Regions from separate parts of the Homo sapiens genome. Here region 2 is linked to region 1. The links come from fine-mapping of genetic effects on gene expression. A gene starts in region 1. The other region holds a variant in brackets. All regions are shown on one strand. Distances are from middle to middle. Region 1 holds the start of GCOM1 (GCOM1, MYZAP-POLR2M combined locus). Region 2 has its middle 27 kb from the start of GCOM1.

Region 1 (15,764 bases):
GATTAATGAGTAGCCTCTGACATCAAGCACTCACTCCCATTAGAGGAGGGTGATGGGGACATGAGAATGAATGACTGCAATAAAGTGTTAAGGTGTGTCACTACACAAGTGATGGAGTGATTAAGTCGTCCCTTGTTTTTACTGCTGTAGGTATTTTTCCACATTCCTCCCTCTTTCTCCAAGTCTTTCTGTTCCCTTGCTCCAGGGCCTTTTATGCAGGTCCAAATAGGCAGTTCCTTTTGTTTTTAGGAACCCCAACTTACTGAGAGATTAGTGACATTTATTCTTGAAGAGGAAAGTCTGAGATGACCTGCTGTTGAGTGAGGGAGGCATAAATAGTCAGATTAGAGGGAAGTTTGGACCAGAAGTAGATGTATTTTTCAGGTCCAGTGAGTAATGGAGCCCATACCACCCCCTATGCAGAGGTGTTGGGATCTTGGATGGACTGATCTGAACATGCTGCAGTACTGGGGATGTGGCAAAAGAACACTCACTCATTCATCCAGGAATGAATTACTGCATGTCCCGTGCCAGGCACTGACTGTTGCAGATGTTGGTATTAGAGTAATCAACAAAATACACTAAACCCCTGCCTCATCAAACTTGGGTCTCACTTAGAGGATGGAAACACAAACAAATGCCCGGGATTTGGGCTTTTATCTGAAGAGCTGTGAAGCCACTGGAGGCTTTGGGCAGAGCAGTGTGGGTTAACCTCAGTGTTGTGAATGGACTTTGGGGGTCAAGAGCAGAAGCAGTTGAACCAGTTAGGACTGCAAGGATCTAGGGGAGAGGTGATGGTGGCTTAAGCCCCTTTAATTGAAAGGGCTTAGATTCTGGATATATTCTGAAGGTGAAACCAATCGATAGCATGTAGGGTATGAGAGTAAGAGGAGGAAGCAAGAGTGATTCCAGGGATTTGGGGCTGAGCTACTAGAAGAAAGGAGTCCCCATCAACTGAGCTGGGGAAGGCTAAGGGCAGGAACAGGTTTTTTTGTGTGTGTGGGGGTGGATTTTGCACAAAAATGACAGAGCCCCACATATCCAGGACAGGAAATCCACGAGCCCCTATGATTTTGTGTGAATTAGAAATGGCATCCCTTTCTCTAGTGAGCATAGCCCCAAGCTGGGGGTATTACAGGACCAGCAGGTTCATATACCTGCTGTGGAGTAACAGACAAATATGCTGAGACAGCAGGGTTTGCAACAGAGAAAAAGTTTAATCATCACAATGCTGAGTGAGGAGATAGGAAGAGACCCTCAAATCCACCTCTCTGAGGAGTTCTGGGCTGGGGCTTTTAAGGGGATCATGGAGGGCGAGTGGCTGGAAAATTGGGGTCATTGATTGGTTGGGGTAAAGGAGATGAAATCATCAGGACATGGAAACTACATTCTTTGGTGAGTCCACTTTCATGGGGTCCTTCAGAGCAGCTGATGTCCATAGTTTCACTGGTATGCAGGACCTGAAGAATATCTCAAATGGAAAACTTGAGGTTTGATAATACTCATGTTGTTATCTAGAGAGCAGTGAGGTGGAACTATAATCTTGGACCAGGATCTACATGACTTTGAGGCCATAGGCACCAAACAACCATGAGGAAGCAGGTCAGACAGCGAGCTGCTCTTATGATGGATGCTGAGTGTGCTGCAAGCTTGGCTCATTTACATTTCTTCCCCTCCCTTCTTCCCGGATTAGTTTTATGGAGTTTTTAGGGACGGTGTCAGTGGCACAGTTTGTCAGGTGGAACATTAGTTCTTTTAGCCAGAAGTCTTTGTGTTGTGAACAACCTTCACAGCCACAAGCAGAAACCCTGCCTGAAGCCACTACTGGCATATCAGAAAGACCCCTGTCAGCTGGAGTGGGGCCAGATAGCAACTTAGGACAGAGTAAATTGAACTTAGAGGAAAATGGTTCATATTCTATGTTTTATGGTAAAGTTTATACTTGTCACAGGAGCTATAATGGAAACCTGTTTACATGAGTTCATTGGAGGCCTAAAGGCAGAAAAATAATGTTAGGGAGTACTATCGTTCTTCTTAGGATTAAAAAATAAATACTGTTCTGTTTCAAAGTTTTATGATTCTCTTCTTACATGCTAAGAATAGATTGGTTGTCTATATTAATCTGTCTTAAAGCAAATCAAATAGAGGAAAAGAAGGGCTTTATTCTTTTCTAAATGTCTTATATTAACACTGGCATGGAACACTCAATATTTTTGCTTTGAAGAAATTGTTCCAGACTTAAAAAAGTATTCTGTCATCTTTCATACTCAGCATTACCAAAAAAATGAGCAGGCAATTCCTAGTTTTCTTTAGAAGGGTCTTCAGTTTTGTTGAGGGCTATGACTTACTAGAGTCATATAGTTTATATTTTATGATCTCCTTCAAGCCTCACAACAACCCTAGGAGGTGCTGCTGTTATCCCCCATTTCACAAGTGAGAAGATTCAGACTTGGAGAATGAAAATGACTTGCCCAAGACTCCTCAGCCTGAATGTAAATGCGTGTTAGTTTAGCTCCAAAGCCCATGCTGTCTATTAAACAGTGTTCTTCAGACGGACTCCTCTGATTTGACAGCTAGAATCCCACAATCCCAAGGCCCCAGACCTCTGGAATTTGAAGGGAATAAATATATCTACTCTATGCCCCTTTCCCCACATGAGCTTGAGTCCTTTCTAGTCATCCTTGATGAGTTGTCTTCACCAGCAGTCTCAGACCTGGGCCCAGTACAAATGCTGGATGATGGCATAATAAAAAAATTGGGGAGCTTATTAGAATATAGCTTCCTGGGTGTCATCCCAGATCCATGAAATCAGAATGACTGTGGGTTGGGACCCAGGGTGCAGTGTTAGCGAGTCCCCAGGCAGCTTTGGTGTGCAGTCTGGCTTGGTGACCACTGGCAGAGCCACATTCCAGGGATAGGGAATTCCCTGCCTATGTGTGAGGTATCCCTGCCCATCATTTCCACCCTTCCCAATTTCTTTCCTTTATCCCTTCCCTTGGCTAGCTCTGGCTATTAAAGTTGTTCCTCACATTGTGGTTGAACTCCATCTCTCTGCAGCTTTTGCTTACTGGCCCCTGTCCTACACTTTGGGTTACACAGAAGGTCTAATCTCTCTGCCACAGTGAGTGACATTCAAGAAGGGAAGTCATTTAACATGTCTGCCAGCCTTTTCTTCTCTAGGGACAATATTCCCAGTTCTATCACTTGCATCTCCCATCATTCTTATACTCTCTGGGTCATGTTCTTCTGAAATCATTTGGGTGTTCCCTTTTCCTTCAAACCACAGCACCCAGACCTGAAGGCCACATTCTGGCATGCTTCGGCCAGCACCACAGAGTAGCTGCCTTCCTCTGAATCCCATATGAAATCAGATGAGATTTTCTAGGGCACAGAAGGGTGGGCTTCTGTGGAGCTACTGGCCATGCTGAGTTCCATAGGCATCTGTAGCACATGCTGCTGCTGAGCCGGGTCTGCCAAGTCCTGTCTTGTGCTCTTCTTGACCTTGGACTCAAGGTTAGGATCACAAATTTATTCCCGCCAGATTTCATCTTGTCAGATTCTGCTCCTGGCTCCAGCCTATTTGTTTTTTGGATCCTATCTCTTCCATCAGTAGATGAGTGTTCTCTCCCCTGATTCTTTGTCTGTATCCACATTGTTTTGTACCAGACTCTGTGGGCCATTCAGTGGTTTATTGTTATCATTGTCCCAGAGATTTTACTCTAAGCGGTGACATATTACATACCCACTGGTATCTACATTTATTTATTTATTGAGACAGGGCCTAACTCTGTTGCCCAGGCTGGAGTGCCATGTCATAATAATGGCTCACTGCAGCCTCAACCTCCTGGGCTCAAGCAATCCTCCCACCTTAGCCTCCTGAGTAGCTGGGACCACGGGTGCCTGTCACCATGCAAGACTAATTTTTTTATTTTTTGTAGAAACAGAGGTCTCACTATGTTGCCCAGGCTGGTTTGAACTCCTGGGCTCAAGTAATTAACCAGCCTCAACCCCTCAAAGTGCTGGGATTACACGTGAACCACTGCACTTGGCCAGTATCTACCTTTATATCTTGATTTGTTTACAGAAATAATATATAGCTATAGTGGACACAGTTGATACCCATGCATATCTCCTCAGCCACATTTCACCTGCTCTGTGTGTCCATTCCCTAGCTTTTGCATCCTTGGATGCTAATGGTCTGTGCCTGTGACTTTCAGAGGATTTTCCAAGGATATTCAGGTTCCTTGCCCCTGTGGAGTGCTGCAAATGCCGGAGAGTTCATGTACATTCCCCACCCTCCATCCCCATACCCAGGTAACCTTTAGCCAGTGACTGACTAGTATAGAGTACAAATGCCCTAGTTCTTTTGTCTTGAGGCAGAAGTAGCTGTGAGGTGCAATTTATACTTCAGAGCTGCCCATGGATCAGGCTGAATTTGAAACTTTACCTAAGGTTGCATCCTTGCTTGTTTCTTCCCCTCCCTGGGTCTCCCACTCCCTTCCTGGTTTCTCCTGGGAGCACCTCCCTAATGATCACCTACATAGGAGTCCTTGGCTCAGAATCTACTTCCGGGAGAGGGTGACCTAAAATGACAGTCATTGCATAAATAGACATATCAGATGTTCTGCTTGAATACGCACACAAAGCATTTCAGGACTTTTTATTTTTAAAAAAAAGAGCAAAAAAGAATTTCCCTTTTATAGATTGTCTATTTTTTTTTTGGTATAGATTTAAATACAGTTACTACTCATATTTTAATTTGTCCAAATGACAATTACTGACCGGTCACTAACTTTTGGGGTAAATTACTCAAGGAAGTACATGGGCTACAAAAAGAGATGCTTCTTGCCCCGTGCTTCTCAGGAAGGCCCCTAATTCTTTTCACGTGTCTCATCTGACTGATTCCTTCCTTTTTGTTATTACTGTTTTTTTGACATTGGGTGGAGTCTACTTCCTCTTAAAGACAGTCATCAGAGTATCTTCCTGAGAAAAGAAATACGTAAGGTTTCTGCCTTTGTATCAACATGTTTTCTCCAAGCTCACAGTAGTAGCTACTTGGAAAAGTAAGAGTGCTGCCTTCTTCTAGGTTTTGAGGTTTGTCTCACTGTGTTTAATCTCAGACTTGGGTGAAGTCCCAAGGCTGAGAAAGAAATCACTCATCCTTTATTTCATTCATTTTCTTAGCTGATTCCCCATCCCTCAGGATCTGTAGAGGTATTTGTCGACTATTCACTGGGGTGGCCTACAAAAATCCTCCAGCTTTTGGTTGGTCATGAAGTTCTGTGGATTTTCTGCCTTTTGAATCCATCCCCTCCTTTCTATTCCACTGCCACCGACTGCCCTAGTGCAGAGCCTCTTTACGTCATGGCCACACTTCCAGTGCACTCCAAAGTACTTGCCTTCCAGGCTCTGTCTGCCATCCTTACTCCTTTCTTTGCTGCCTGCCATCTTTCTTCATACAAATCTGATCATATCACTGCACTAATTGCAAAACTTTAAGAGCTCATAATCTGCTATTAAGTCTCAATTTTATTCAAGTCCATTTGCAATCTAACCCCACCCTACTTGTCTCTGGCCATTCCCTCCTGCCCTGAAGTTCAAGCAGAACTGGCTAACATGCATTTCCCACATCCCCCGACCCACTATTTCTTCCAGCTCCTCTGTCTGGAATGCGCTTACCTTTTCCTCCTCATTCTTCGTGTCCAACAACTCCTATGCCACCTTCCCAGGGAAGCCTTCACTGTTCTCTGCCCAAGCAGCTTCCCTCCTGCCTACCATAAGTGCTCTGGACACACCTCAAATCTGGCCCCTATCCCAGTAGAGGAGGTGAATTGTCAAGTATGCAGATGTTGGAGCCATCTTGCCTGGGGTTGAAGCTTAGCTTAACCACTTACTAGTGCTGGAACCAAGGGCAAGTTACTTAACCTCCCTGCCGCTCCATTTTCTCATCTGCAAAGTAAGGGACATAATACTACTTTCCTCACTGAGTTGCTGCGACAGTTAAATGTGTTGATGCATTTTAAGCTTTGTGAACTCAGTAAGTGCCATATAAAAGTGTTAGCTGTCATTTTATTTGCTAAGTGCACATCTCTCTTCCTGGTTTGATTGTGAACTCCTAGAAGACAGGGGCTGTCTTACTCACCTCAGTCCCCAGTGCTCAGTACACAGTAGGTGCTTGGTACATATTTGTTCCATGAATTGGCTTATTATTACTCTGCCAGTTGCCTGTTGGTTCACTGGGTTAACTGGCGAGACAACAGAATGATTTCCAATGAGCTTGTATTCCCCAGGGTGGATCAGCAAGTGGTTCCAGCCCTTGTGTCTAGACAGGCCTATAACTGCTGTGTATCTGGATGACTTGGCTGGGGTTTTGGGTTCCTTTCAGCCTGCCTTTCTTATCTCTAGGCCCCATTCCCTGTTTCTCGGACAACCTGTGAATATGGGGTGTTTCTTGTTCTACTTTATCCAAAGGGGCTTTGTAATGTATTACCCTTGTCCTTGGTTGGAAATGTGTCCTTTTTCTATTGTGAAAGTTTGGTCTGTTTGGCATGCAGAATGGGAGAATATGCCAGGACTTCGGGATGCTGTCGCAGCTGAATGGGAGAGAAAGAAAGAGAAGCTTCAGAGATATAAGAGTGAAGAGGGCATGAAATATCAGGAGGGCCAGAATTGCTTGGGTTCATCTACTGTGTGCTCTTGTCCAGTGATTTAACTCTTGATCATTTGTGCAAGAAATAATGAGTCATTGCTGCTCAGGACTTTGCTGGAGAAAAGGGTCCTATCATAAGCCTCTCAACTAAAGATGCCAATGGAATTTGGAAAGAGTTTAGCAGAAAGCAACAAAGACAATTCAGAAGCAGAGACCTAGAGGATATGAAAGATAATTCTAGGAACTGGGATGGGAGAAGGAGGTAAAATTCAGTAACTGATTACAAGAAAATGAAGGGTGCTTATACAGACATCTGGAATTTTCTACACACCTGTGCTTTAGCAGAGAAATTCAGGACTGCTCTTAGGCCTATGTGGCTATTTCTGTGGATAGAAAAGGATGACAGCTAAGACAGTTTTGTCATAGCTCCCGTTCTCTCCAGCCCAAACACTAGCAACCCCTTCATCACCAATGCTCAGAGGGTCTGGAGTAGATGAGTCATGTTGCAAGGGAATGTGGAGAACTTCTACACCAGACCCTTATCCCTGTTCCCCTCCCATTGGCCCTCTTCCCCACTCTCAGTTCTGTAGACTCCAGAGGACTGCTGACTGGGCAGAAGTTCTCAGCTTTTGATTCCTCTTTTGAAAAGAGTCCATCTTTTTTTAAAAATCATCTTCTCTCAGAAATATTAATGGAAACCAGTGACTGTGACTTCATTTTTTACTTTTTCCTCTCCACTCTAGATCCACTTTTCCATTGATTTCAGTCCTACTTGTCTTCCCATTTTCCTTCTTTCCCACTTTCTGGGCTCCCCACTCTCCTCTCTCTTGCAGTTCCTTATGACCTCAGATTCCTAGTGCTGGCCTATTAGGGAGGAGCTGTGGCATAAGCCAGGGCCTGGCATCTGCCTGGACACACCACCCACAGCCCTTGGCGATTGTCAGCCAGCTTTGGGGAAATGGCCTGGCTGGGACAACCCTGGGGCTCTTGTTGCTTCAGCTGCCAAATTGCTTGGAGTCCCTGGCCCACCCTAGGAGCTGGGTTGGCAAGGATCTTAGTTTCTGTTTTTCATGACCATGAGTGAGTTGAAATCTTACTCTGTAATAACATTTCTTCATTCTTTCCACATTTACTTGCACTACCACACGTCAATTACCTGCTCTAGATATTGGACAGGCAGAGATGTAAACAAGATCCAGCTTCTACACAGAGCTCACAAGCTAGTGAGCTGTCTGCTGCTTTTGTAAAGAAATATAACACCGTGTGAATAGGATGTTAACAATATGAAAAAGACTTGGGTAGATTAGAGGGCTTCGTGGAAGTGGAATGGGAAGGAACCTGTCATGAACAATTTTCTTTTTGGAAGGGATAGGTGGATGGGAGGATGCAGAGAGGAGTGTAGCAGAAAAGCAGAAGGACTTGGGTTAGAAGACTAGATGTGTAGTCTCAGCTGTTCACCAATTAACCTAATGTCTCTGGCCTCAGTTTCCTCATTTGCAAAACAGGGGCGATAACTGTAGCCCACCTTGTGGGGCATTGTGAGAATTGGTTGAGAAAATGCATATAAAGCACTTAGGACACAAGCACAGCTACTGTGAGGATGACGATGAGGATGGTGAAGAACAGGCTGTGCAACTTTGGGAAAGTCACTTGTATACACCGGCCTCAGTTTCCTCATCTACAAAAGGAGTGAGTTCCACAGGATCATCTGTAATTCTGTTTAGCAACATTTTTTTTTCAGCATCTTCCCTGTTGGTGCCATTGGGCATTCAGAGAGGGTCAAGGCCTGGCCTCTGCCCTCCAGAAGGACAGGGTACAGGCACACACATAGATAACTCTAACAGAAGACAGGGTCCCGCGGAGCTGCTAAGTTCCTGAGCATGCGTGTTTGGGGAAGGGGTTTCTGGAGAGCTCCGTGGGGAGGCAGTGCTTGACCTGGGCTTTGAAGACAGAGATTGTGTCTTTCCCTGCTGAAAAACACTTTGTCCTCAAGATAAAGGCCAAATTTCCAGCTAAGCACACAGGTTCCTCATGATGTCCTCAGCTCCCTTCCGCTGCTTCTCCACTGTTTTCCCACTGCACTGTGATACTTCCAATTCTTGAAACATATTTTATACCTTCCCTTGCTTTCCTTCCATCTTTGTGCATGCTAGTTCTTTTGACCTGGGACTCCCTCCTCCCTCTGTTAGGGGACAGCAGAGGGGACAAGCAAGGCACTAGGGTCGGACTGGGGGATTCATATCCTACCTTTGCCACTGAGAGGCCAGTGGGTCGCCTGCTGTGTTGCTCAATCCCTAGGTGAGTCAGCGTCTTCATCTGCAAAATGGGGATACAAGGTAACAACAGTGACTCCCTCAAAGGGCAATGGTGAGGATTAAATGAGGTAACACACGCAAAGTGCTCGCCAGGCAGGCCCACAGTAATCATTGAATAAATATGGGCAGTGTGGCCCACTCCTACTTGCATTTCAGGTCTTAGCTTAGTCATCACCTCCTCTGAGGTTGGCTGTGTGCTCCCTTAGTACATGGTATCTCCTCTTCTACCACAGCCCGGCACCTGTCATCCCCACCACACTGCAAACTCTCCGAGGCCAACAGCCAGTCGACTGGGTTGGCTGCTGGTGGGGACGCATAATAGGCATTCAGGAAATACTGAATGAATGACATGGGGTGAGGGTCCCAGTGATACGAGGGCGTGCAGAGGCTGTAGGGGGCAGTCCGGGGTGGGGGTAGGTCGTGAGACTGAATGGGCAGGTGGATCTCAACTCTGCGGGGGACAGAGAGAGCATGGGCGTCCAGGCTGTCCAGGGCTCCTTCTTGCCCTGGGACTGACCCTGGGAGGGCGCAGCGCCCTGGGAGAGGATGGTGCTCAACTTTAACCGGGTCGGCGCCCTCGGGAGAAAATGCAGCCTGACGGGTCGGGTGAGCGCGCTCGGCCCCGCCCCGGCCCGGCCCGGCCCCGCCCCCGGCCCCACCCCCGGGCCTTCGCGGTGCAGCTGAGGCTGCAAGTAGCCGGCGCCGTCCCGCGTCGCCCCCGCGCAGGGCGGGCCCCGCACGCTTATTCTGCCCGGGAGGAACGCCGGCGTCCAGCCCGCTACCGACCGCCGCTGCGGGATGCTGCGCTCCACGTCCACGGTCACCCTGCTCTCGGGCGGCGCCGCCAGGACGCCCGGGGCGCCCAGCAGGAGGGTGAGTAGCGGGGGCGGGAGCCGCCGCCGTCCCGTTCCCCCATCCCGGCCGCCCCCTCTAGAGGGGACTAGGGATGGGAAAGCTCGGGAGCCAGCACCTGGCCCCGACGCCCCACCCTGGGCTCAACTCCCCGGTCCTGTGCCGGCTCTGGCAGTGACCCTCCCGCTTGAGGTTTCAGGGGGCCCACCAGCTGGTAGGAGAGGGCTTAGGGGACTTTATGGAATTCCCAGAGATTTCCTCTCCTTCCTGCCTTTCTGTCAAGCCGAGTTTATTGGCGGCACCAGTTTAAAAATGAAGGAAGACATTTGTGCAGTGTCCCTACCTTGAGACTCAAAAGTAATGAATGTATTTAAAACTCAAACTTTCCTTCTTCCATTAATTAAAAGAAAGATGGGGTCACTTGTGTCCACTAGTGATAGGGTATCCACTAGTGATAGGGTAATTCTGGAGTGGGGTTAGCCAAGGTGGGCAAACCAGAACAGCAGCCGGCCGCCCAGGAGCCCGACTGTGTGGGACTCCGGTTTATGTAAACCACTTTCTTCTGTCTGATTTAAATATTAGCACAGTGACAACAATGGCAGCACTGAAAGCTTGGGACAGCATCTCCAGGGAAGGTTTCCCTTTGGAAGTGCTGTTTCTTTTTGATCTTTGTGGCATCTTTTCCCATCTCTCCAGATGCTCTGTAAAAGAAATGCTCCATCTTTCTAACACGGTCAGCACCTTAGAGCCACAGCCAGGGGCTTGGCTTGTGGCTTTTTAGTTCTTCCATTTATCATGATGTTCAATACTTATCATTTGGTACCTCTTTGCTCTGATTGAGACTTCTGTAATCGTGTTTCCTCAAGATTTAAACAGGTGGTTAAGTCCAAAGCAAAACCCCCACTGGTTCTGTCTGCGTGCAGGCTTGGACCTGCTTATTTGCTTTTACATGCCTTAAGCGAGTGATGGTGGTCACCTTATAAGCTGTCTTTCTTAGCTCTAGAAGAAAGGTGTGTTACTCTTGGGCATGGGCCAACTGATGGATTCTGGGGTGTGTGTGTGCGTGCACTCACCAGACACTTAGGTTGTGTACACAGGCGCACACACACACACACACACACACACACCCCAGAATCCATCAGTTGGCTCATGCCCAAGGTTGACAGAACTCCAGTTGTCCAATCATTAGCATCATAGAGTAAGATCTACATTGGGTCCAAGGGGGTTTCCAACCACAGTCCTGGCCTTACTCTAAGTTGGGTGTTTGTATTTTTCTATGGAAATCTTTCTCAATTTGAACACAATTGCAACTGAGAAAGAATGAAGTCACTGAAAAGCTAACCCTGAGCCCTGAGAGGATCATATGTGTGACCAGACTGCATGAATTGCATGAAATTCTCTGTAACTTCCCTTCCAGAGGTGGGGATTAGTTGGGGTACCTAACCTAATACGGTGGGTTGATACAAATGTGACTAGTATACAAATAACATTTCTGAAGATTTTGGGTCAAACGTTTCCTTTGGAATATTTATTTAATTATAGGTGCTTTGCTGTCGGACACATTGTGACACTCTTGAAAAGACTTTGCCTTTTGAATAAGATGGCAGACGTATTTTGGACTGGAGAACTCAGGGCTCGGGATCAGGCCATTCAGGGCTGTCCTGGGTACACTGGTACTTGTTTCTGGAAGGAAGGTATCTAAAGGGTCTAGGGTTCTGCCCATCTTTATGGTTTCTAGCTCTGCTCATGATTTGCAGATGTTACAAGTACTATCTGTGTGTGTGCTGGGGATTGTGTGTGTGGTGGGAAGCTGTGAGATGTTGATTAATTGATTTATTGAACATTCATAAACCTTTCTCTGTGTGGTAAAGGGCTGGCATTGGGGTCCGCCCTACCTGTAGAGGCAGACATTTTCCCAAACTAACATCAAACAAAGTGGTGATGGTTATAGTGGGGTGAAGAGTTTACAAAGTTCTGTAGAAGCTAAAATAAAGGTTCTTCCTGAGGCATCAGGGGAAGGCCTCTCACTAAAGGTATGTTTTTTTGAGATGGAGTCTCACTTTGTCATCCAGGCTGGAGTGCCATGGCACGATCTCGGCTCACTGCAGCCTCCACCTCCCAGGTTCAAGCAGTCCTCCTGCCTCAGCCTTCCGAGTAGCTGGGACTACAGGCGCACACCACCATGCTTGGCTAATTTTTGTATTTTTAGTGGAGACAGGGTTTTGTCATCTTGGCCAGCCTGGTCTTGAACTCCTGACCTCAAGTGATACAACTGCCTCGGCCTCCCAAAGTGCTGGGATTATAGGCATGAGCCACCCAGCCCCGCCTACTGGTGATGTTTGAGTTTAATCTTGCAGGATGAGTAGAATTTGTAGGGGAATTGACATTATTGGGATACTGAAAGGAGGAAATAACCATCTCAATGGAATACTTGGCATATATAATCATGTACTGCATAACCACATTTTGGTCAACAGTAGCCAGGATATATGACGGTGGTTGGAATGGTAGGCTATCTCATATCGCCTAGGTGTGTGGTAGGCTATACCATCTAGGTTTGTGTAAGTGCACTCTATGATGATTACGCAACGACAAAAATCATCAAATGATGCATTTCTCAGAGTGCATCTCCACGGTTAAGTGACACATGACTACTTTATCATGATGGCAAATTGGACCTGCTTTGGGACAAAATACCTATTGTTTAGAAAAGCAGGAACGGGATGTCCTGAAAGTAAAATTGTAGACCAAATAATCATTGGAAGTGTACCTTTCATTGAAAGTTGTTCAGCAAATACTGTATTGTTCTGTTATTCCTCTCTGATGATGGACAAGTGATGGTCTTGAACATGTTATCCATTAAAATTGTATTTCTGGTTCATCCAAAGAGCTCATCAAATTGGGTACTGCAGGGGAAACCAGCCTATGTGGGTCCAGATATTCAAGCCAACCAGAAGTGGTGGTGACAGCTGACACTGAGCAGGGACTCCTGCGAGCCAGCTGCCAAGGGTTATGTGGCTGGCTGGACTGCCACCAGTTAGCCTTTGTTCAATGGCTGCCACCTGCAATTTGTATTTCCTTCTTATCTGAAATCACCTCTCAAGGAAAAAAAAACCAACAGGTGGAGAGAGTAATTTCTGTCAGCTGATAAACAAAGCTCTGAAAGGCATTTATGGATGCCAACCAGCAGAAGTTGTGAAATTAAAAAAACTTCCTTCAAACCAGTTGTGCACTAAAAATAGTTTTATCTATGGCAACAGCAGGAAGACAAATTGACTGGAGAATAACCACAGCCAGAAGATGACCTTGGGGAATGGGGGGAAACGATTTTAAAAATATTGACCTTGCTTCATGCTTTTGAAAGGAATTTTATAAATGCCAGTTAGTCTTGCTAAATGGGCCTTTGAAATGGAAGGTTGGTTGTGTGGCTGGGTCGTGTGCTTTGCGGGGAAGGCATGTGTTGCTTTATGGCTTCCCCACAAAGCACACAACCGGGTCACACAACTGACCTTTCGGCACAATACTTACTGCCGAGTATTTTTGGCTAAGCTGTTCTGATCCTGGGCTGTGGAATGATAGATCTGTCAAGGATCTTCTCCAGCACCTTGCTCTCTTGATAATAAAAGACTGTTGGCTGGTGTTGCTGCTATCGTGACCCGTCACTGGCACAGAGAAAAAACAAAACCCAACAAGGTCACAGGATAGGACTATCTCCTAGCCTGCCCTTGCTGATATTTCTTTCTATTTGGCAAAGGCTTCCTCTGTTAAACACTGGAATGGGCCTGCTAGTCATTGTTCCTTGGCTAATGTGTCCCTCTCCCATGTCCCATTGCTGCCTGACTGGGCTAAGTTGTGAGGGTTTGGAACCAAGGCGTCCTCTGGGCTAAGGGCAGGGCTTAAACCTGTGCCGGTCAAAAATGATGGTTGTAGGCTCAGAAAAAGAGGTGCCCAGCTCTATGCTTTTGATCTTTCACATTGCCTTGTTTGATAGAGGATGAACAGACCTGAATTCTGGAGACTCGTAAGGAAACTTGATTTCCCCTAGACATTTATGGAGATCCCATGGCTTTTCTACAAAGGATATGGAATGTGATTTTGACCCATTTGTCTCTGGGGGCACTGATGGAGTGCTGCGTATGAGGTCCCTGTTGTAGTTTACCTATGCTGTGCATCCATATCTGAACAAGAGACCTGGAGGCTGGTGTCACTAAGCCCTGGTCACTGGGGAAGGCTTTGAAGTCAATTAGCCTCAAATGTTCTTGTCTAATTGAGTTCAAGGAGCTGTGGGCCCAGGGCTGACTAACTAGAGACCATGTTAAATATTTCAACCCAAGATACTTCTCAGCACTCATCATGCCTTATGGTCTTACGGAATTCCAGTACTTCTCCAGCACACAGAAGAGCAATACAGTGGTGTTTACCTCTTTCCCTCTTTGGTGAGTGATAGTTCCTAAGTGTCAACCACACTCCTGGCTCTTTTTCACTCTTAAAGGCCGGGGTGATCTTTCTAAAATGCTAAATCTAGTCTCCTGACTCGTCTGCTTCAAGAGCCTCCTCAGTACTGCCAGGAAAAAGTTCACACTCCTTAGTGTAGCATCCAGGCCCTCTGGTTTGGCCCGTGCCTGTGCTGTTTCCCCTCCCTATATGTGGTCTTCTCAGATATTCCAAATCGTTTGCCATTTCCCCGAGCTTTCGATGCCGTTCCTTGCCTCTTTGCTTTTCTTCATGTTTCTCCTCTGATGAGTGTTGTCTCCTCTAGGAAGCCTGCCCTGAAACCTCAACCCTCCTTCTCGTGTTCCCCTAGAGGCCTGTGCATGCCACCATTACTTGCGTCACCTGTGATTACCTACTGGAAGACAGGGCTTAGGAACCACCCCTCCCCAGGCCTGGTGGAATAGGCAGTTAAAAACAGAAATCTCACCAGGTCCTACGTAGAGGAGCCACAGTTAACATTGAATTGGCAAATGGAAAAACAGGAAGAGAAGCCTTGGGTTAAATCCATCCCATCACTTCTGACCCACCTGGGCAGGAAACGGGTGACAAATACATGGGAATGCTGGCCCAGGTGAGGAGGTTGACAGTTCTGGGAAGTCCTCCAAATATTCGAGTTGCCTCATCCTGCTGCACAGTTGGAGCTTCATCCCTTTGGTTCAGTCAGTGGTTCTCAACCAGTTATACACAGAATCACTGGGAGGCTTAAAATAGCCATGTCGAGGCCTCATCCCAAACCAATTAAATGGGAACATCTTAAAGTACAGAAAAGCATGAGTATTTTTTAGGAAGCTTCCCAGGCGATTCTAATGTGCAGCAAGGCTAACAATATTTCTTTAAGCATTACTCCCTTCTATAGCTTTCTTGGAAATGCAGACACTCCTGGGACAGTGTTGCAGAAAGGTCCCTTGAGCCTTGTGGGATGAAGGGCAGGGTGGTGATGGGGCAGGGAGGGGGAGTCCTCGCACTCCAAGTCACACTGGCATCTTTGTGTGCCTTCATCCACCTGTGTTTTCTCTCTGGATCTTGGCGTTTGGGGCACATTGTGTGCCTAGTACAGAACACAGCCACAGAAAGCAGGAATGTTTTGTATGCCTCTGAGCTAAGAATGGTTTTCACAGGGGCCTGCAAAACCTAAATATTTACTGTCTGGCTCTCTACAGAAAAAGTTCGCCCCACCCTGATGTAGATAATTGGGCTGCAAGTTCAGGGCCACAGCAGAGCCAAGAGGTCTAATCTAGATGGGGCATACACTGTTCCGCATGCAGCCTGCTGCAGGCTCCTGGGATTTGATCCTTGTGCTGAGCAGAGAGTGTGGGGTCTGTTCCCCCTAGCCACACTTACAAGGGCCCCACCTTTTATCATTAAGGGGAGCTGGGCAGGGACCCACAGTCACAAAGTGGAACAGGCCTGAGAGAAATGTAAATGCACTTGGCTAATTTCCTTAGGGAAATCCA
Region 2 (15,764 bases), 25 kb before region 1:
GAGGACTTCGTTCTCCATTTTCACCCCAGAACACTGTTTCCCCTTGTCCTTCCAGTATGGAGAATAAATACTAAAGAATATTGATTGGAAAGAACACTGAATTCTTGGCCTGTTTTGGGGGTGGCATTTTCAGCTTTCCTTGGGTGGCCACATGTCTAGTTTCAGGCTCACAAAGACCAAGGTCTCACCAGCTCTGTCCCCTGTGGAATGGTGGTGGCATCTTCTGTGTGATGGTGAATTTTAGATGTCAACTTGACTGGGCTAAGGGATGCCCAGATAGCTGGTAAAACATGAATTCTGGGTATGTCTGTGAGGGTGTTTCCAGAAGGGATTAGCCTCTGAATCGGCAGAACGAGTAAAGCAGATGGCCCTCCCCACTGTGAGCAGGCTCTGTCCAATCTGCTGAGGGCCCTCACTGAACAAAAAGGTGGGGGAATAGAGGATTCATTCTCTACTTAAGCTGAGACATCCGTCTTCTCCCACTCTGACATCAGCGCTCCTTGCTCTCCAGCCTTCAGACTCTGAATGGGACTTAGGCAATCACTGCTACCCGCCCCCCCACACCCCCATTCTTAGGCCTTTGGGCTTGGACTCAATTACAGCTTGCAGGTGGAAAATCATGAGACTTCTCTGCCTCTAACTGCATGAGCCGATTCCTATAATAAATCTCTCTCTCTCCACACACACACACCCACTGGTTCTATCCTTTGAGGATCCTTGATTAATACACTCATTCATCCCTTGAAACGCCCAACTCTGTTGTGGAATTGACCATTGTTCTTCCCTGGCTGCTGTCGCTATGGGTCATGGTGCTCGCAGTCCTCTTTGGATGGTTGGATGGGTGAGAGGGGTGCTCGCACATCCCTGGGCTAACTGGGGTAGTTGCCTTGTTCATTTTGCTATATCCCATTTGGACCCTTTATGATTGGAGTATGAACTACATTTAGCAAACTTTTAAGTTCAACCCAGGAGCTGGAATCCTTACATCCTGGGAGTAGCTCTTCGAACACTTTGGAACTAGAGGCATGCATGGTGGTGGGTGTTCTTAGGTACGCGTTTCCTAGATGGATGGTCCTGAAATGGTATGACACCTCAACTTGCCAAGAGGCCTCCCGTGTGTTCCTGCTTGGCAGGGGGTGAGATTGAAAAGATTCATTACTTCCTTTACATATTTATTTTTCTATATAGAATAAGGTAACTGTATTACTACAAATTTGGAAAATAACCCCACCATACTGATGCAACCATTATTAGCATTTTGGCTCATTTCTTTCCAGTCTTTTTTTCCTACACAGTTTTTAAAGCATAGGTACAACTGCAGTGTTTATATGATTTGTATATGCTTTTTTTGTCACTTAACATTATAGATATTAGATAATCTTGATCACTTTTTAAAAATGCTTTTTAAAAATACACTTAAAAATCACATCACATTGAGTGAATTCTGTCATCAGTTAACTATAATACTATTTGTATATTAACAAATGTGTAGGATTTGGAATTCTGCCTTCCTACATCAAATACTGTTATATCTGTAGCTTTTTCATCTTTCAAATAATTTGCTTTGGCTAGATGACCAGAAAGAGAAGAGGAAAGACAACATCTTTAAGTCTCTATAAAAGTTCCTAATGTGGTTTGGCTCTGTGATCCAAACTTTATGTTGAATTGTAATTCTCAATGTTGGGGGAGGCACCTGGTGGGAGGCGACTGGATTATGAGGGCAGATTCCCTCCATGCTGTTCTCGTGATAGATCATTCTCACGAGATCTGATGGTTTAAAAGTGTGTGGCACTTCTCCCCTCTTTCTCTCTCCTGTTGCCATGTGAAGATGTGCTTGCTTCACCTTTGCCTTCCACCATGACTGCAAGTTTTCTGAGGCTTCCCAGTCATGCTTCCTGTACAGCCTGCAGAACTGTGAGTCAGTTAAACCTCCTTCTTCATAAATTACACAGTCTCAGGTAGTTCTTTGTAGCAGTGTGAGAACGGACTAATACAGTTCCCAAGTTGCTTTTCAGAAGGGTTTACTAGTTTGTACAGACCCAAGAAATTACAAATGTGGCAGTTTCTCCCTTTCTCTCTCCCCTCAGCTTTGATTATTAACATTTCTTCCCGAATAATAGACTAATCTTTCTTTCATCAGGGCAGTCTTTTTATATTGTTAGTGAAGTTTCTTTTAGAAATTGTCGTTTTGTGAGTCTTTTTAATTTTTTATTTATTGTCTAGTGTGGTTTTTGAGTAGCACATAAAATAAATGCAGATAGTACAGGAGGGTAAAACAATGAAAAGTGAGTCTTCCATCCTTGGCGCTCATTTCTCCAGGCTCTACTCAGAGGCAGTCACTGTTTCTAGTTTATTTTGTTTCTTCTGCTTCTTGTACATTTTTCTCGGGGACTCCTGGATCCCTCGCCCTCTGGCTTCCCACTGCTTTTCTGGTTCTCTTTAAAGGGCACCCTACCCCCAGCTGCATTGTCAGGCTCAGTGCATCTCTCTTCCCTAACAGGTCCACAGTGGTCAAAACTCTAAACATATGAACACTTATTGGGGAAGGTAGTGAGGATGGGAGCCAGTGGGGGATGTGGCCTGGGAGGGAAATATTGCCAGATCTCATCTTCCTGAGATGGCAACAGGAGATTTGGACCAAAGGCTCTGGGTCTGTTGGGGGGATGGGGGGAACAGCATTTTCAACCAGGTGTTAGTAGTGGCTGCAGAAATGCGGTTTTCTGGGATCTCAGGTGGGCTCTTTAAAGAAGAGACTGATGGGTGATGATGGAAGCCTTCACAGTCCTGATGTAATAGCCGAGGTGGACAGCAGGGGGAGCTGTTGGACGCTTCTGGCCCAAATGTGGCACAGGAGTAGATTAGTGGCTCCTGTAATCCAGGGCCCCACCCATCAGTGGTGAAGTCCCAAAGAGGACTTTGGACAAAACGAAGCTTTGCCTTCCCAGTGTTGCCCAGGTGATCTGGTGTTCCTATGTTACTCTTAGGTGAACTGTTGCAATATTCGCATTGCAACAAATTGAATTCCAACATTTATTGTGAACTGCTATTTTGTGAGAGACCTATGTTATTCATGCATACCTTTCAAAGGGCAGTCACTATGCACCTAGTCTGCACTGGCTTATGCTGAGATGAGTAAGGCTCAGTTCTGGACCCAACGGGATCAGAAATGTCCACCGAGCACTAAAAAAACAAGGGATGGAATTTAAAGCACTATAAAAGAGGTATAGATGAAGTGTGGCGGAGGTTCATGATGGGAACGGCTGTCATTGGATGGAGCAATCAGGGCAGAATTCATAGAGGAAATGGCATTCGAAAGGGCTTTAAAATGGGCTTGAAAATTTAGAACTGTTTATTATGAAATTTTAATCTCCTAGAAGGGTGCATCTTTGGTGGAAAAAACAGAGGGAACACGGGGATGAAAGCTGGGCTCAGAGGATCAGCCAGTTGCATTAAAATCTTGAGTAAATGAAGTGGAGAATTACTGGAGGTGAGACTGGAAAACACGTTTGGATCCATATTTTTGGAGAACCTTGAATACCACTCTTAGTAACAAGGCAGCAGTAGCTGCTTATAATCAGGAGATTCTGGATAAAAAACAGAGGAGTTGGGGTTTATGCCTTCTTGTCATTTCTGAGAAGACGAGTAATTTTTTTAAAATAGCCAGTGAAATTAGTTCCTATAAAAGATGTGATCCTTGATCATCAATAAGGACAATCGACTTCTCCCAATGGAGAAATCTGATGATCCATTTCACACATCCCTGGGTGCAAATTACTACCTAGTCTACACTAGTGTTTCTCAAACTTCAGTGTGCATCAGAATAACCTTGAGGGCTTGTGAAAACATAGACTGCTGGCCCCACTCCCAGAGTTTCTAGGGCAGCCAAGAATTTGATGCCAATGCTGCTGGTCTGGGGACCACACTGAGAACCTCTGGGTTTAAACATCCTACCTGACCTTTCTCAGTATATCCACTGGGTGGCAGCAGAGAGCATCACAGGCACTGCACAGTGGTCAAACCTGGAAAGCCCGGGCAGAGGCTGTGGAGGACTATTTCTGTGTATTCAATGTAGGTTATTTTTGCTGCCAAATGACAATACAAACCATCCACAATATCAGGCTCTTCAAAATTCAAGGATGCGTTGTATAAGAGAATGATTGGTGACTTGGATCTTGTTCCTTTTCCAGGATGTCGTCACCACCAGACCCAGTCGAGACATCCTCTCTCTACCAGGCGCCCCCAACAAGTCCTTCCTTCAAAAAGAGAATAGTTTTTAATAACTTTCAAGGTCACCTGCAAAAGGGTTTCTGTTTGAGTAATGTAATGACTGTAAAGCTGGCAAAAAACTGTATCGCCAGCTGATAGCTTGAGTCAGACTGGAAAATTACGAGCAAATTTTTCCATGAACCAAGAGGAAGTGTCCAGTCATTGTTGAGAGCAGGTTCATAGCTGTGTACGAGCTCTAGGAGATGGGGAGGCCCGTGCAGACCTACTTCCTTCAAGAAGGGAAGACAAAAGAAACACGTTTTGAGTTTGGGTTTTTAGATGGTTGGGAAGTTTATGTTATAGGATTTTTTTTTGAGGGGGGGGTTTGTTTGTTGATTTTTGTTTTTAAGTTATGAGAGTTATTTTCTTTTTCTTCCTTTTTTTTTTTTTTAGAAGGAGTTTCACTCTTGTTGCCCAGGCTGGAGTGCAATGGTGCGATGTCGGCTCACCACAACTTCCACCTGCCAGGTTCAAGTGATACTCCTGCCTCAGCCTCCTGAGTAGCTGGGATTAGAGGCATGCGACACCATGCCTGGCTAATTTTATATTTTTTGGTAGAGACGGGGTTTCTCCATGTTGGTCAGGCTGGTCTCGAACTCCTGATCTCAAGTGATCCACCCACCTAGGCCTCCCAAAGTGCTGGGATTACAGGCGTGAGCCACCGCGCCCGGCTCTGAGAGTTATTTTCTACTAACCAATGATGTACTGCTAGATTTTGGAATAAAAGGTTCTATGTGTGTGGGGAGGGGAGGAAGGAGCAGAATCAAAAAGCCCTGAGCAATGATAGGATGGATTAGAGTTTGGAAAGGGAAACGTGGGGTCCAGAACACACTGGTTAGGCTGTGGCAAGGGGGTCCTCTTGACATCCTCTAACCAGATCTCACAGCACACTTCCTGCCATGTCGCAGCAGAGACCAGCCCTCACCAGACCCGGTGCTGACATTAACCAGGTGCTGCCCTGAGCGAGATGGCGTCCTGCCACGCCTGCTCCGTCATCTGGGAGATGCCTTGTCGGCAGCTCCAAGGCCTCCTGTGGGAAGGCATGAACGTCTGTCCTCACGTCCCTGCTTCCCTTATTACCCAGCGGTGGAAGTTCATCCCCCACTCTCCTATCTTCCTGAATTCATCCCATCCTTTGTTGGCCCTGTGTGTGGTTTCTTCCTGTACTCTCTTTTGTGGATTTTTGTAGAATTTCAGAAGTGATTGTGATATTAGATGTGATCATCTCTGCTCTGCCTGCTGCTGGGGATGTGTGGCACTGACCCACTCTCCCCATTTTCCTCATTGTGGCTCTATAGTCAAAAAGGCTCTTAGGCCCCTTCTAAGTTCTTTCTTCTCCAGGCTAACATCCTTTTCTTCTTTAAGTCCATTTTTAACATTGGTTGTGAGTTAACTCCTGACCTCTCCCCCTCTGTCTAGTCCATGCTGGTCACTCCCTCCTTGCTCTAAAAGTGAAGGTGCTGGTGGGAGCAGGACCTTCTGGCTATCCCCAGGCAGGCCCGTGCCTCCCTCGAGGCTTTGACATTGTGATGTGTGTGTCTCTTCACACCAGGGTGGGAGCCCCTTGAGGGAAAGAACCACGCCTTTCTCTCTCGGGAGAAAGCCCCTGTCAGACAGCAGGCATTTGAAATTAAACAGAACATTATAATTCTGGGTCCTAACCTTTATAAATGCAAGGCAAGACTAGATTATGTTAGCGGATTTGTCAATATTCATTTGGTTCAGTCTTATTGCACAGATAGGCAATTAAAGCATTTTAAATGGGCTGTGCTTAAGTGTGGTCCCCCTCTCATGTACTCCTATAGCAGGCTTTAAAACACTGCATTGCGCTTAAAGATCTGCTTCTTGGATTTGGGCTGTTGAGCTCTTTTCCTTCTTCCACATCATTCCCTCAACTTCTCAAGAAGTTGTCAACTTGAGATGCTGACACATTCTGCAAGTGCACAGGGACACAGCCCTAAGAGTGATCAGCTACCCCCAGTGCCCATCAGTGGTTCAGTGAAGGACGGCATCCCTGCTTAGAATTTGACCATTCAGTCTGCCGGTTACCAAAACCATGTTCATGCTTTAGTGTAAAGGTTTAGCATCAAGGTTACGTCCCAGGTGATGCTTCAAATCCAAACTTCCCCCTTCCCTGGGCTCCTGTGGTCTTTTGTTCTCTTGCAGCGCTTCCGGACTGTGGTTAGCTGATTATAGTTATTTTTTCCTACATCATTAGGTGGTGAGCTTCTCCGGGACAAAGTCTGTCTCATTATTCATCTTTGTTTGTAGCAGGTGCCTGACAAATACTGATAGAATTAAAATAACTTTTGTTTGTCTCACATTTTGATAAATGAACAGGGCTATATTTACCTGAACGTTTATGATTTCATACATGGACAGCATATTTCCTCTTGGGCTTTTCTCTTCCTAGACTGGATAGATTTAATGATTTTAGTTTTATGTCACAGGACAACCCTCCACCTGGAAGAACTGAAGTTCTATTAAGTTTAGGGGTTTCTGGCTAATTTGTAAATTGTTGAGAAAGAATCCACCTTGTTCTGGTCAAAAGGTGACAAATATAGTTAACTTCAACAAAGGGCAGAGAGTCAGCTATTGTTTCTGCCAATGATTACTTTTGTTATATGCTTGAGATCAGATACTAGTCATTTGTATCCCAGTTAACTTAATATAGATAGCATTTTCTAATATTTTCAAGCGTTACTCTAATGCTTTTTGACGCCTATTTTGAACATCAATCTTTTAAACTCATTATATATTATTCTATAATTTATAGAAAAATCATCACACTTTACCTAATTCTTGTTTGTTTGTTTGTTTGTTTTGAGACAGAGTCTCGCTCTGTCACCCAGGCTGGAGTGCAATGGCGCGATCTCGGATCACTGCAAGCTCCGCCTCCGGGGTTCATGCCATTCTCCTGCCTCAGCCTCCCGAGTATCTGGGAATACAGGTGCCCGCCACCACGCCCAGCTAATTTTTTTGTATTTTTCGTAGAGACGGGGTTTCACCGTGTTAGCCAGGATGGTCTCGATCTCTTGACCTCCTGATCCGCCTGCCTCGGCCTCCCAAAGTGCTGGGATTACAGGCGTGAGCCACCGCGCCTGGCACTTTACCTAATTCTTATAGGCAATATTTTCTTTGGTACTTGGGACTTTTTTTAAAGAATAGTATCCTCAAATTGGAATTAGTGTGTCAAATAATATGAATGCTTTTCTGATTCAATTGGATTTTTAATTTTTATACTTACTCAAATAATTTATACTGACTGTTGAAAAATAGATAAGCAATTAATAATAAAGAAAGTCCCCCTTGCTTTCACTATTT[AGAAAT/A]AACTACTATAAATATTTTTATGTATATTTGTGTACACTTTTTTCTTTACATGGATGTTTATTTCACAAAATGTGGAATCTTACTGTTTATGCTATTACATAGCTTATTTTTTTAAATTATTGTGAATTTTTTCAGCTATAAAAAGATATTTTCTCAAAAATTTTTTTCAAAAGAATATATTTTTTCAACACAGTTTTAATAATTGCACTGTATTCCATGGAATAATAATACTAATAGTTAACATTTGTTTTGTAATTTTTATATGCTATGCAATATTCTATTTGTTTTATATACCTAAGCTCATTTAATCATCACAATAACCCTGTGAGATAGGTACTATTACTCTATTTTAGCAAAAAAAATTATGCATAGAAATATTAAATGACTTGCCTAGTTATGGGCATACCATAAATGTGCATGACCCAGTAGGTCATTGTAGAACATTTTAGTTATTTATTTTTTGTTTGCCATCATAAGAAATGTTGCTATTAATTCATGAAACAAATATTCACTGAGCTCCCACTCTATGCTGGGTGTTTTGCTAGAAGCTTCGTATGTAAGGGAAAAACTGTTGCAGAAAGTAGGCTTGGCTGGGAAAGAGACCTATTTGAAAGGATCCTGGCATGAGATGGCGTTTTCTCTCTTCTGTTTGCTCACATCGCGGAGGGGAACTCCATACTGCAACAGCAGCCCCTGGCTGGATGTGGTTTTGTCTCTTTCGTCAGCAGGGATATCTCCCGCCCCACTTCCTTGCTCTCTCAGGAAGGCCCCCTCGTGCTCCGCACACCTGCCAGGGTGGGGCTTGTGGAGTTGACCTTCTTCCTTCCTGAATCAGACAACCAAACCAGAGGTGTAACTTCGGTGGCTGGTCCTGTACCTCTGATTCTGTTCTGTGTTCTAAGCAGAGTTTTCACGAACAATGAAAACGCCTGGGAGTGTTCATTGCCAGTTATTAAAGAAAAATGGAATTGGCTACTGTACGGTGTAATAGTCCCCAGGTTATTCCACCCTTTCTGGCAGACTATTTACTCATGTACTTTTAGTATACTGAGGGAAGGCTAAGAGATCTCTGGCCAGTGGGTAGGAAAGAATAAAAAGTCTTTGAGTTTTCAGGTATTTTCTTTTAGTAGTAGCTTCCAGCAAGGCACAGTGGCTCACGCCTGTAATCCGAGCACTTTAGGAGGTCTAGGCATGTGGATCACTTGAGGGCAGAGTTTGAGACCAGCCTGACCAACATGGCAAAACCCTGTTTCTTCTAAAAATACAAAAATTAGCCAGGCATGGTGGCACGCACCTGTAATCCCAGCTACTCAGGAGGCTGAGGCAGGAGAATTGTTTGAACCCGGGAGGCAGAGGTTGCAGTGAGCTGAGATCATGCCACTGCACTCCAGGCTGGTGACAGCAAGACTCCATCTCAACAACAATAAAAAACCTTTATTAACATAATTTACATACCATATTATTCACTCTTTTAAAGTGTAGAATACATGGGCTTTGAATACGTTCACAGAGTTGTGTAACAATCACCACTGTTTAATTTCAGAACATTTTCATTACCCCAAAGAGAAATCCCATACCCACTGTAGCTTCTCATTCTCCCCACCCAAATCCCCCAGCTCCTGGCCACCACTAATCTACTTTCTATCTCTATGAATTTGCCTATTATGGACATTTCATATAAATGGAATCATATGTGGCATTTTATGTCTGACTTCTTTCACTTAGCATAATGTTTTCAAGGTTCATCTATATTGTAGCATGGATCAGCTCTTCATTATTTTTTAAGGCTGAATAGTATTCCATTGTATAAATAGAACACAAACAAAATATAAATTTTGTTTCTTCATCCATCAATTGATGGATATTTGTGTTGTTTCCACATCTTAGCTATTATGAAGAATGCCGCTGTGATCATTTGTGTACAAGTTTTTGTTTGAACATATGTTTTCAATACTCTTAGGTACATTGCAGGCATGGAATTGCTGGGTGATAACGTACCTTGATGTTTAACCTTTTGAGGAACTGTCAAATTGTCTTTCAAAGTGACTATATAACTTTACAATCCCACCTGTCATGTATGAGGGTTTGTTGCATTTTTAATTGCAGTTACCATGAAGTCTGTAAAAGCCAGGCAGTCACAGCCACAGGGCACAATTCCAGAGTGCAGAGGAAGTTTTCCATACAACTCTCACCCTCTTGGCAGGGATACCAGGCCTGCATGTCTCGTGACTGCACATGTTGTTTAGACAATTGTCTCTGTTTGGTGACCCACAGTTTTCGTACTGATATCCGAGTTTTATTGGCATTGCTGACCTATGAGTCTGATGTCTTTGGTGCAGAGCCTCTATCACAGTTTTACCCAGAATCCCATTGCTTTGGACCAATAATAACAACATTCCCTTTGTACAGGTCTTTGCAATTTGCAAAGCACCGTGTTACTTCCCTTTTCTCCAGAGCCTTATGCTCTGCTTTCCAAGGTGTTGGCCTTAGTATAGCAATGTAACCGCTGCTAAGGTGTGTAATGGCCAATAAGATGCTGGCTTTTCCTAAAGAGACTCACTGAGTCCTAATATTTCCCTAGTATAAATGTATCAGTAATGATGAAGATGTCAGGTGCTATGATAGAGCAAAATGGCTTTTGAGGCTCCCTCAAAGCTAGTCTTAGAAGACTCCCCCTCTGTGTGCAGGCCATAAGCTTGGCATCGTTGTAGGAACTTAGTACGGTGTCCAAGCCAGAAGACTTTTCTTTTTGAGACGGAGTCTCGCACTGTCGCCCAGGCTGGAGTGCAGTGGCGCGATCTCAGCTCACTGCAAGCTCCGCCTCCCGGGTTCACGCCATTCTCCTGCCTCAGCCCCACGAGTAGCTGAGACTACAGGCGTCTGCCACCACGCCCAGCTAGTTTTTTTTTTGTATTTTTAGTAGAGACAGGGTTTCACCGCGTTAGCCAGGATGTTCTTGATTTCCTGACCTCGTGATCCGCCCACCTCAGCCTCCCGAAGTGCTGCGATTACAGGCGTGAGCCACCACCCCCGGTCCAAACCAGAAGATTTTTCTACATCTTTCTTCTTATACAAAGATCGTTTGTGAAAAAGCTAAGATTGGTGGCAGGTTTTCAGGAAATTTTCCTTTTTTTTTTTTTTTTTTGCTAGTTTGTGTTCCTAAATAGTGAACATGCAATCGCTAAGTTTTTAAAAGAAGCGAAAAATTGATGGTAGGCCCAGCAGTTAGAAGGCCCTGGGGTTACAGTTCTTCCACAGGGCAGTTGCTGTTTATGAGTGTTCTTTCTTATCTGTAAACCCGTTCTCTATGCCTGAGAGAACATTCCTTACAGCCATGACTCCTTAAAAAGGATAGCCTTTGCAAAAGATTCTTGTCAAATGTTTTTCATCATCTATAAATCACACACAACTGTTTCCCCCAACATTAGCATCAATGTGTATGCCAGTTTCCTCTGAAAATGTCAAGCATGACTGCTCCTTAGAGAAACCATGTTTCTACCTCTCTTCCTCACCAAAGTTTATAAATTCCCAAGCATTCTCTGTGTTAACATTTTATTGTGTGTCACCTCACCCTGAAAAAAAAAAAAAGATAACTAGATTCTGTGCGTGAACCCCCTTCAAAACTCAACTCCCAGGAGAGCTGTGTGTTTTCTAAGCCTGAGCAGCTCAGAATCCTGGTTCATGAAGGCTTGTGGTCTAAGGGCTGGTTATTTCTTGTTTAAATTCAAATTAATTTCCCAGCTCCAGTGCAAATATATCCTTGCAATACTATACGACACCACTTTCTGGTACAGTCCACCTGCCTGTTTCCTGTGCTGTGTTATATCACTCATAGGAAATTCTAATATTCCAATGAGCAACCAGCCTGGAAAATAAAGCAATTCAAATACCTGGGAATGATGGGCTTATTACCATTGCTCCATTTCCCTGTGATATTTATTCATCAGAGATGAATTGCTTCTTTGTGATTTCAGAGGTCATCTCATCTAGTCCCAGGGAGGACTATGTCTAAACTAACCCAAACTGTGACTGTTCATTAGAGTCTTAAAATTTTATGGCTATAGAAAGATGACATCTTTGACTAAGAATTACTTCCACTGTCTATTTTTTATGAATTTTGGAAGTTCTACTTCAGTATAATCTGAATTTTTTTTGCTGCATTGTCTGTCATTTTGCATGCAATGCAGAAAAAAAAAATTCCACTCTGCATGCTAGAGTGGATCTGGTAACTGAGAATAATAGCCATTATGTATTGAGCACATATTATGTGCCAGAAACCATACATAGTGCTTTACAAGCATTACTTTATTTTATTCTCAAAACAGCCCTATAACGTATGTATTTTTTTTTCAGCCTTTTCCAGATGAGGAAGAAAAGGCCTTGAGACATGAACTAGCTCAGCGAGATGGCATAGTTAGACTTTTGGTTAAACAGGGCAGGTTGACATGCTTGGGTAGTACTGTTCCTTCCTGAAACCCCATGAAAATGACACTGAAGGGATTTTTTAACTTGATAATACAAGAATGATAAAAGAGAATAGGAGAGTAAGCAAGAGCAATGGCATCTGGGAAGCCGGAAGGAGAGGGCAAAGTGTCAATTTAACAGACCAGAAAATGGCACAGCCTATGTGGTTGGGGGTGAAGTTTGAAGTAGGCAGAGTCCTCTGAAAATGGGCACAGGTGGAGCTAAAAATAGGATTTGTTGAAAGTTTGTATATTAAATATTTCAATGTCCCTAGATCCTCTCCCTCCTGCTGCTAGAAGACTAGATATTTCTTCTCTGGAGCTGCCAGCTTTGGGCAGCAGCATAGCTGAGGACAGGGTACCATGCCACATGGGGGATTGAGTGAGTATATGTGCTGAGTGGTGACACCACTGGCCTCCTCCCCAGGCCCAGCTCCAAGAGCACTGGCAGCCAGGTTGATCTCTTCCAAGCAGGAGCCTCGAGGATTCCTTTCTAGGGAAGATGTCTGGCAGCTCAGGCATAGAATTTAAAAGATGTTGAGGGTTGGGAGTACCTTGGTGAAACTGCTCAGTGGTTTACCCTCTGGTGAATTCTATAGTTGATGAATGTCACCCCATCAACTATTGGGTGCCTCACTCTGAAATATGAGCGAACAGTCAAGGGTCATCAGGCATTTGAGAGAAGTCCTTAATATCAAAGACATAGACAAAAACAAAAACAAAAACAAACAAAACAAAACAAGGAACTAGGGATGAAACAAGCAATCTGGGCAGCAGCAAGAAACCTGTACCATAGCAACAACAACAAAGTCCTGTGATTGATTCATCTTCAGAGATTACATAGACAAGCACAAGAGGTTAGCATAGCAGAGAACCAAAATGATCCTTGGAACTTCAAAGTTGAGAGCAGAAAGAAAAACTAAATTTAATGGTTAGAAAATGAGGTTAATTGAAGTAATTATCCAGAAAGTTGAGTAATAACATAAATGAGGTGAAAAACAGGAGAGAAAACATAATAAAATTAGAGGATCAGTCCAAGGAGTTCCATAGACTAGGAACAGAGAATATGGAAGGGAGAAGGACGCAATTCAAGAAATTTCTCCATTTCTGAAAGACGTGAATCTATAGATATGTAAAAGGTCCACAGAGTGCCAAGCACAATGCATGAAAAACACCCACAACAATGCATGTGCCCAGCCCCCACTTATCCCTGGGAAATGTGTCCCAAGACCCCCAGTGGTGGCCTGAAACCTCGGATAGTACCTGCTGTAGTTTGGAGGTTTGACCATGCCAAACCTCATGTTGAAATTTGATCCCCAATGCTGGAGGTGGAGCCTATGGGAGATGTTTGGGTCATGGGGACAGATTACCCATGTACAGATTAATGCCCTTTCTTGGGGGTGAGTGAGTTCTTACACTATTAGTTCCTAATTGAACTGGTTGTGAAAAACAGCCTGGCACCTCCCCTCCTCTCTCTTGATTCCTCTTTCGCTGTGTGATCTCTGCACATGCTGGCTCCCCTTCACCTTCTGTCATGAGTGGAAGCAGCCTGAGGCCCTCAGCAGAAGCAGATGCTGGTGCCATGCTTGTACAGCCTACAGAACCGTGAGCCAAACAGGCTTATTTTATTCATAAATTAACCAACCTGAGGTATTACATTATGGCAACACAAAATGAACCAAGAGAGTACCAAACCCTATATATACAACATTTTCTTTCCTATACATACAAACCTGTGATAAAGTTTAATTTATAAATCAGACACAGTAAGAGATCAACAACAATAATAAAATGGAACAATTATAACAATATGCCAGGATCACTACTCTTGTGCTTTGGGACCATTGCTAAGTAAAATAAGGGTTCCCTGAACACTAGCACTGAGATGTTGCAATAGTTAAATTGATAATGGAGATGGCTACTAGGTGACTAACGAGCAGGTAGCATATAGAGCTGGACAAAGGCATGATTCATATCCTGGGCTGGATGAAGTAGGACAGCTTGAGATTTCATCACGCTACTGAGAATGGCATGCAATTTAAAAATTATGAGTTGTTTATTTCTGGAATTTTTCACTTAATATTTTTGAGCCGTGGTTGACCACAGGTAACAGAAACTGTGGAAACTGTGGATAAGGGGGCACTACTGTAATTATGAAGCTTCAGACCATCAGAGACAAAGATAAGGCCCTAAAATCTGTAGGGGGAGGCAAGGCAAGATCAGGAATCAGGATGGCATCAGACTTCTCAAGAAAAGCAACATTAGATGCCAAAACCCGTGCAGCAATGCCTTCCAAATTCTAAGAGAGAATTACTTCTCTATCCCTAGAATCCTGTACATGTCCAAACTATCAATCAAGACAGTTTCAGAAATACAATGTCTTGAAATCCTTAATTCCTATTTACCCTTGGGTATATTCCTCCAAAATGAGGGAATTATCCAAAAAAAAGGACAGCATGAGATAAAGGAAGCAGGTAACGCATCCCAGGAGATAATGCCCAGAGGACACCCTGGATGATGGCAAGCGAAGCCCCAGGATGGCACCATGGGGCTGCCTGGAGCCCCACCAGTCCAGGCTGGAGCAGGAGTTTAGAGAGCTCTTCCGGGAAGTGGAGGTGGAGGCTGTCTCCAGAAAAAAAATGCTGTTGACATATGACCGGATGAGTTTGGTCATGTGACACACTGTCACTTTTGAAGGAAAGCTAGTGATGACTTAGTGATAAGTATTAATACATAAAAAGCTAAATAAGTGGAGAAAAGGTGATAGTTGTTAGCTTCAGGAAAAACAAAAAGTTGTATACGAAAGAAAATATTACTATAAAATGCACTTCATGGCCTGTGACTGATGATCACGCGGTCATAGAGCATAAGCCGTGATTATTGATTTAAACAAAATTACGATATAGCTGTATTTGAAGAATGAGGGGGCATGTGGGAGGAAGATTTAAGAGACCAAAACCTCAGTTTCCACATGGAGAGTCACTAGATGGGATCTAAAATTTAAACAAAATCCAGATATGGCCATATAAGTGTGTAATTGAAATATATGATGATAAATACCAGAAGAAATAGCTTAAAGAGTTAAAAGTGGCTGTGACTACGCAATGGGGATCAAGGGGCAAGAGGGTGCTAATTTTCATTATAAACTTGTAGAACCACTGGACTTTTAAAACCATGTGTGTGTATAATTTTGTCTTCTTTTCATTAAATGTTGCAAAATCAGCATTTGAACCCAATTCTGGTCTGAATCCAAACCTTATTCTATTATCTCAATTTTGCCTCTCAAAATAATTGCTTAACATTTATTTGCCTTTAGATTTTAATTTTTTTGAGTCAATTTCTGATGTGTGCTGTTGACTCAATAATCTACAAACTCCACATGTGTATGGTCCGTGCTTATTTTGCTGACCATTGGATTCCCAGTGTCCAGTGGAGCATCTGGAAACAGTTAGGCTCTCAAAAAACATTTGTTTGTCATTAGGTCCATTTTCTGAGTCTCTAAATTTCAATTCTTGAATATCCACATCCCTCTTAAAGACTGTTTCTGGGCCAGGTGTGGCGGCTCACACCTGTAACCCCAGCACTTTGGGAGGCCAAGGGAGGCAGATCGCTTGAGCTCAGGAGTTTGAGACCAGCCTGGGCAACATGGTGAAACCCCATCTCTTCAAAGCATACAAAAATTAGTCAGGTGTGGTGATGTGTGCC

Evidence for each region.
Region 2: its variant is fine-mapped to the expression of GCOM1 in whole blood (INTERVAL, PIP above 0.99).

What each region holds. Positions count from the first base shown.
Region 1 is chr15:57,582,273-57,598,036 of GRCh38, forward strand. GCOM1 (GCOM1, MYZAP-POLR2M combined locus) reads left to right here and starts at 9,632. Exons shown (of 17, transcript NR_104371.3): 1 at 9,632-9,837. It overlaps MYZAP (myocardial zonula adherens protein), which reads left to right and starts at 9,632. Exons shown (of 13, transcript NM_001018100.5): 1 at 9,632-9,837. The coding sequence starts at 9,763. RefSeq lists a silencer at 9,521-9,630.
Region 2 is chr15:57,557,193-57,572,956 of GRCh38, forward strand. No RefSeq gene overlaps it. Among named protein-coding and RNA genes, the nearest start is that of GCOM1, 27 kb to the right of the region's middle. The variant AGAAAT/A (reference allele first, on the strand shown) is at 7,591.